Homo sapiens: one gene and its partner. Each later gene encodes a partner of the first gene's protein in a complex. Each region holds a gene or a part of one and is shown on either strand. Other genes may lie near its edges.

Region 1 (3,749 bases):
TAAGGCCTCCTGCAGCAGGAACAGGGAAATTCCAACAGCCAGAAGACGTCCATGTCTCATCAGTGCCCTCCCACTTTCCCTGCCTCCTCTTCTCTCTTCCTCCTACTTCCTGGTGAGCTGTTCCTAAGGATCTGTAGGAATAAGCATCAACTTCTCCAGCCAGGCAAGTGGGAGCAAAGGGTGCAACAGAGAGCCCAACAGATGCCTCCCAGAGATTTGGAGAAGTGAACCATGATTTGAGTGACTTACTTGAGTTCCTTCATGGCAATGAGCAGAGGATCTGTCTCCCCCTCCAGCTCCACCATCACAGGGGCACACATCCTGTAGGGATAGGGACAGGTGTTAGGGAGACTACAAACCCAGGGAGAAGGGCCCAACAGGCAGTGAGGGTGGAACGGCATCCTGGTCCCCACCTAGAAACGTCATCTTCTAGGTAGGCAGGCACAGTAGGGAGTGGTGTGTAGGGGCACTGCCAGAGATCTTCCCTGGCAGAGGCCTATCACAGACTCCGGAGTCCAGCGGCCACAGCAGAATGTCCTGGTGGAAAGGGAGACATGTGCAAAGGCACACCATTCTAACTGCTCCAACCCCAGAGCCTTGCCTCAGTGCCCAGTGCACCTCATTTCAATTTCTATTTTCTCTCTCTACTTTTTGGAGACAAGGTTTCACTCCCATTGCCCAGACTGGAGTGCAATGGGGAGATCGTGGCTCACTGCAACCTCCACCTCCCAGGCTCAAGCAATTCTCCTGCTTGGGACTACAGGCATACACCACCAGCTATGCTAATTTTTTTATTTTTTGTATAGATGGGTGAAATTAACATTTCGCCATGTTGCCCAGGCTGGTCTCGAACTCCTGGGCTCAAGCAATCCGCCTGCCTCAGCCTTCCAGATTGCTGGGATGAAAGGCATGAGCCACCATGCCCGGCATCATTTCCATTCTCTATAGACACAACACCTCAGTAGAGGCCCTGCCCTTCCTGCCCAGCCCTCCCCACCCTTCACCTGAGGCCAGCAGTCAGGGGGCTCACCTGCTTACAACACTGTCATGACTCCCCTTGGCTATCAGGCCAGAGTGCAGTCTGGTCCCTGTTTGCCTTCCTAGCACAGTCCCGTGCTACTTTCCTGTATTTACTCCACATTCCAGCCATACCAAACTATTTCTGGTTCCCTAGATGCGCCATGTTGTTTCCCTTTTGTGTGCTCTTACAAGCTCTTCCTCTCCCTAAAAACCTGCGAGAGGTTCAGATGTCTCCACCCTGGAAATCGTGTGCTGACTCTTCAGTACCTGGACTCATTTTGCATATACTTTTCTTGGCACCAATCTCATTGAACTGTAACTACTTGTTTGGAAACTTTCCACATTAGACCATGAGCTCCTAGTGGCCCAGAACCACATGTGATTCACCACGGAGGCCCAGCCCCCAGCATAACACTTGGCCCACAGTGGGGACTCTACCACCAAGCAAAGGGATGCCAATTCTAGGCCCATCTCCTCTAGGAAGCCACCCCTGATGATTCCAGCTCAGGTTCACACCAACAAATCCAGAATTAACAGGAGAGCATGCTAAAAAATACAGGTTCCTGGGTCCTTCCCCAGACCCCCGGAATAGAATCTCTAGTGAAGCGGCCTGAGAGCCTGCATTTGCAAAACTGCCCAGATGATTCTGATAATCAGCTAGTCTGAGAGCTACCAGCTTACTAATTTTATTACTAAATATTTCGATTTATATTACTCCCAAAAGCCTGAAAATTTCCCAAGGGCAGAGATGAAGTATTTAACTTTCCCTATATCCTCTCTTAATAAGTATTTAAACTTTCCCAAAATATAAAGCTTTAAAGAATGTGGCAAAATACCTGATCTGCATGTGCCTGCTTTCTTTCAAAATATAAATAATTCAAGGGCATTCACTCATTCCGCACCTATTATGCACATGGAATGTGCAAGAATGTGTCCTTAAGTAATTTAATTTTTCTTGCACCATGGCTTCTACAGAGAAACACATCAACCATCCAGTTAAGAAGTAGATGTGACAAACATCATCAGCCACCAGGTGGTGCTAATGAACCAGACTGAAACCCCATCCAAAACCTACCCAACAAACAGTTGTTCTGGCCAGGTGCAGTGGCTCACGCCTCTAATCACAGCACTTTGGGAGGCTGAGACAGGTGAATCACCTGAGGTCAGGAGTTTGAGACCAGCCTGGCCAACATGGTGAAACCCCGTCTCTACTAAAAATACAAAAAATTAGCCGGCCGTGGTGGCACATGCCTGTAGTCCCAGATACTCGAGAGGCTGAGGCATGAGAATCGCTTGAACCAGGAGGTGAAGGTTGCAGTGAGCCGAGATGGCACCACTGCACTCCAGCCTAGGTGACAGAGTGAGACTCCACCTGCACCTACCAAGTGCAGAGTCCCATTATGGCTGTACAAGAGCTTACAGCAGGCAAGGAGCCACCAGATGGTGTCATAGCCCTTAAGTGGAAAGAGCACTAAAGACTGGAATGAGCTGGATCAAGCTTTGCTCCCCAAGAAAAACAGGACACTTGGCTGGGCACAGTGGCTCACGCCTGTAATCCCAGCACTTCGGGAGGCCAAGGCAGGTGAATCACCTGAGGTCACGAGTTCAAGACCAGCCCGACCAACATGGTGAAACACCGTCTCTACTAAAAATACAAAATATTAGCCAGGCATGGTGGCGTGTGCCTGTAATCCCAGCTACTCAGGAGGCTGAGGCTGGAGAATTCCTTGAACCCAGGAGGCAGAGGTTGCAATCAGCCAAGATCATGCCATTGCACTCCAGCCTGGGCAACAAGAGCAAAACTCCATCTCAAAAAAAAAAAAAAAAGAAAGAAAGAAAGAAAAGAAAAACAGGACACTTGGATTTATGAGTGGCCTGGATGCTGGATGTTGGCCTCAAAACCTTTAAGTGCTGCACACTGCCCACCAAATGAACTCTAATCTTCTGAACCTGTCACTCACAGGACCAGTGTCATCTTCTCCAGCCTTATGCCCCAAGCTGCTTATGATCCCTCATCACAAATCCACAACTGCCTGCCTCCACCTGGACCTTTCCTTGGGCTGTTTCTGGCACCTGGAGTACCCACAAAACCAACTCTCTTTACCTGTCCCCACTAGAATTCTAATCCCTTCACAAGGCTTTCCCAGTCACCTCTGCAATAACTCTCTTTGTACCTTTCATAAAGCACCACTCGCATCTGCCTTGGGTTGTGGGTACCTGTGCACAGGTCTATCTCCCCCACCAGAAAACACCTGGAGGACTGGGGATTATGTCTTTTTTTTTTTTTTTAATTATTTTTGGTAACAGAGTCTCACTCTGTCACCCAGGCTGGATTAGTGGCACGATCTTGGCTCAGTGCAACCTCCGCCTCCCAGGTTCAAGCGATTCTCTTGCCTCAGCCTCCCGAGTAGCTGGGATTATAGGCGCGCGCCACCACACCCGGCTAATTTTTGTATTTTTAGTAGAGACGGGGTTTCACCATGTTGGCCAGGCTGCTCTCGAACTCCTGACCTCAGGTGATCCGCCCACCTTGGCCTCCCACAGTGCTCGGATTCCAGGCGTGAGCCACCGCGCCCGGCTGGGACTACATCTTTAATCATCTCAGCATCCTATCAAGTGCTAATGCAGTATCTTTCTTCAGTGCTGAAAGACTGTTTAACTTGCAAATAAGCAGTCTATTTGTTTTAAAAATAACTTATGAATTCTTCTTTCTACTGGGCCACTTTTAG
Region 2 (3,749 bases), on another chromosome or scaffold:
TCCGCCTCCCAGGTTCAAGCCATTCTGATGCCAGGCTGGTCTTAAACTCCTGAGCTCAAGTGATCCTTCTGCCTTGGCCTCCCAAAGTTCTGGGATTACAGGTGTGAGCCACAGCACAATGAGTTTCGATATGCATGCATTCTGGAGAGATGTGTGGAAATTCTAGGTACTTAGACATTTTTTGAAAAGAATCCTGGAACCAGATGCCTGCTGTAGATAATAGGGAAGTCTAATTAATTACTTCTACATTCCTCAGATAAGGAATTTTGCCTCCGATGGCCTGCTTGATGGTCACCAGGTGGTCTTTTTCTCTTTAATTTTAATTTGGAAATAATTTCAAGCTTTTAAGTTGCAAAAATAGAGCGCAAGGCTCGCCCAAATTCCCTTTACCCAGATTTGTCAAAGGCTACCGTTCTCCTCCCTTGTTGCCAAGTGGTAAGTTGGTTTTGAGAATCTAGAGCTTGGCCTAGGGCAAGGAAGGGCGTTCCTGGAGGGGGGCACTGCGCAAGCAAAGCCAGGGACCCTGAGAGGCTTTGCTTCCTGCTCCCCTAGGCTCGGCTGGAGCGGGACTTGAGCAACAAGAAAATCTACCAAGAGGAGGAGATGCCCGAATCGGGCGCGGGCAGTGAGTTCAACCGCAAGCTTCGGGAGGAGGCTCGGAGGAAGAAGTACGGCATCGTCCTCAAGGAGTTCCGGCCCGAGGACCAGCCCTGGCTGCTCCGGGTCAACGGCAAATCAGGCAGGAAGTAAGTGGTGGGGCGGTGGCGGTGCCGGCTTAGTGACCAGTCCACATCCCCAGGCCTCAACTTACATACTTTGTGGGGTACCCTCTCTGAACCTCAGATTCCCACTGCTGCAGTGGAAGTGCTGGCACTTCCATCCCTGTAGGATTTTATTATTTATTTATTTATTTATTTATTTATGTTATCTTATTTTACTTACTTGTATTTTTTTGAGACAGAGTCTTGCTCTGTCGCCCAGGCTGGAGTGCAGTAGCACGATCTTGGCTCACTGCAACCCACACCTCCCAGGTTCAAGTTATTCTCCTGCCTGAGCCTCCTGAGTAGCTGGGATTACAGGTGCCTGCCACCACCACGCCCAGCTAATTTTTGTATTTTTAGTAGAGACAGGGTTTCACCATATTGGTCAGGCTGGTCTCGAACTTGGCGATCCTCCCGCCTCGGCCTCCCGTAGTGCTGGGATTACAGGCGTGAGCCACCGTGCCCAGCCTACTTATTTATTTTGAGACAGGGTCTCACTCCGTTGCCCAGGCTGGAGTGCAGTGGTGCGATCGTAGCTCACTGCAGGCTCCAACTCCTGGGCTCGAGATCTTCCCACCTCAGCATCCTGAGTAGCTGGGACTATAGGCACGCCCCACCATGCCTGGCTAATTTTTGTATTTTTGGTAGAGATGGGGTCTTGCTGCGTTGCTCAAGCTGGTCTTGAACTCCTGGGGTCAAGTGATCCTCCTACCTTGGTCTCCCAAAGTGCTGGGATTATAGGTATGAGCCACTGCCCAGGCCCTGGGGTTGTGTTTTTGAAGACAGTTCACTGAGTTGGTGCTTGTGCCTGGCTCTGAGGCAGCTCTGAGTGCCACAATGCAGGAAGCTTAGGTGGCCAGCCCTGGGAGCTCATGACACTTGAGATGACCTCTCAGAGGGGGCAGACTGAGGGCAGAACAGGAGGGGTCCAGGTTAGGTTGATGAAGGGTGCTCCAGGCACAGCAGTTGGGTGATAGTGACAGACACAGGCAGCTCACACAGGGCAGTGGGTGCCAGGATGTGCTGGGTCCAGCGGAGCCTTGGAAAGCTGTAGGCAGGGAAGAGGCACTCACCCAGACTGTCCGGAACTTTGGGGTAGAAAAGAATGAGGTAGAGGCCTCAAGGAGGCTGGGCAGTTGTTTAGGCTTGAGGAAATGGTGGCCCGGGCCAGGTGTCCACTTCAGATTTGGCCATGCCATGGCTGGGCGCGGTGGCTCACGCCTGTAATCCTAGCCCTTTGGGAGGCAGAGGCGGGCGGATTACGTGGGGTCAGGGGTTCGAAACTAGCCTGGCCAACATGGTGAAACCCTGTCTCTACTAAAACTACAAAAATTAGCTGGGTGTGGTGGCAGACACCTGTAATCCCAGCTACTCGGGAGGCTGAGGCATGAGAATTGCTTGAACCCGGGAGGTGGAGGTTGCAGTGAGCTGAGATGGTGCCACTGCACTCCAGCCTGGGTGCCAGAGCGAGACTCCATCTCAAAAAAAAAAATTTGGCCATGCCTTCCCGCCCCATCTTCTCACTTGGCTCCTCAGTTTCCCGGGTGTGGCCCACAGATAGCAGAGCTGGAGGCAAATGTAGACAGTTTGACTGCAGGGTTGGGCTCTCCTGAGATAATCTCACACAGTCTTTCCAGAAATGATCCCGATGTGCACACGCCCAGCACTTTGCAGGGTAGGTGCGCCGGCCCTGTTCCCCAGATGTGGAAATTGACGAGGCCCAGGTGGTTGAAGGGCCTGCCCAGGCCTCATGGGCATTTCTTGGTCTTCCTCCTATGGCAAGTGCCATAAAGGAGGCAGGCCCCGGGGGGACACGGGGGGGCTGGGGCTGGTCCCTATGGGCCAGGCCATGACCGTGGCTCCCTGCAGGTTCAAGGGCATCAAGAAGGGAGGCGTAACAGAGAACACGTCCTACTACATCTTCACCCAGTGCCCCGACGGGGCCTTCGAGGCCTTCCCCGTGCACAACTGGTACAATTTCACACCGCTGGCCCGGCATCGCACGCTCACTGCCGAGGAGGCCGAGGAGGAGTGGGAGAGGTGAGTGGGCTGGGTGGTGGCTGGGGACAGAAGTGAGGGAAATGGGGTGCCTTGCCATGGATATATCACCAGGCCCTGTGCTGGGAGCTGGGGACTCAGGGGTAACCAGGGCAGACCCCACTCGGCCGTCTCAGAGCTGTCAGTTCAGGAGGAAACAGATAGGAGGCCTTAGGGCCACAATGGGGCACCCCAGAGGGTGCTGCCAGAGCCAGAGTCTGTGACCCGGAGCTCAAATTGGCAGAGCAGGGTGGGGTCTAACTGCCCCCTTGGCTTTCCGCAGGCTGCAGGTCACACAGCCTGATCCACTGCAGGGCAGCAGCTCCAGGCAGGGCACCCGAGGAGGGTTTCTCTAGCAGTGACATCGGCCTCAGAGGTGGGGCGGGTGCAGTTAAGGGCTGTGGAGGGACACAGTGCATGAGGCCAGTGCAGAGTGACTGTGGGCAGGGGGACGAGGCTGGGGGCCCAGAGCACTTGGTCTTGGATGTATGGCTTTGGATGAGACCGTAGGGCCACCACCACCCTAGGGTGCTTGCAGATGGTGGGGAGGGCACTCTGGACGCATCTACAAATGGCATTTGCACAGGTCACAGATGAGCAGATGCTCAAAGAGTCGATGGCTCCCAAAGGTTAAAAAAACACCTTTTTCGGCTGGGTGTGGTGGCTCACGCCTGTAATCCCAGCACATTGGGAGGCCAAGGCAGGCGGATCACGAGGTCAGGAGATCGAGACCATCCTGGCTAACACGGTGAAACCCCGTCTCTACTAAAAATACAAAAAATTAGCCGGGCATGGTGGCGGGCGCCTGTAGTCCCAGTACTCGGGAGGCTGAGGCAGGAGAATGGCGTGAACTGGGAGGCGGAGCTTGCAGTGATCCTAGATGTTGCCAGTGCACTCCAGCCTGGGCGACAGAGCGAGACTCCGTCTCAAAACAAAACAAATAAAACACCT

What was found.
Region 2: POLR2F (region 1) and GTF2F1 share a complex: the UniProt entries of both Homo sapiens proteins name them as parts of the TBP-based Pol II pre-initiation complex.

Annotation. Positions count from the first base shown.
Region 1 is NC_000022.11:37,963,671-37,967,419, reverse strand, and holds part of POLR2F (DNA-directed RNA polymerases I, II, and III subunit RPABC2), read right to left. Parts: intron 322-3,749; coding exon 250-321; intron 1-249. UniProt on the Homo sapiens protein: DNA-dependent RNA polymerase catalyzes the transcription of DNA into RNA using the four ribonucleoside triphosphates as substrates.
Region 2 is NC_000019.10:6,386,441-6,390,189, reverse strand, and holds part of GTF2F1 (general transcription factor IIF subunit 1), read left to right. Parts: intron 1-486; exon of another isoform or gene 487-552; coding exon 553-746; intron 747-2,630; coding exon 2,631-2,801; intron 2,802-3,749. UniProt on the Homo sapiens protein: TFIIF is a general transcription initiation factor that binds to RNA polymerase II and helps to recruit it to the initiation complex in collaboration with TFIIB. It promotes transcription elongation.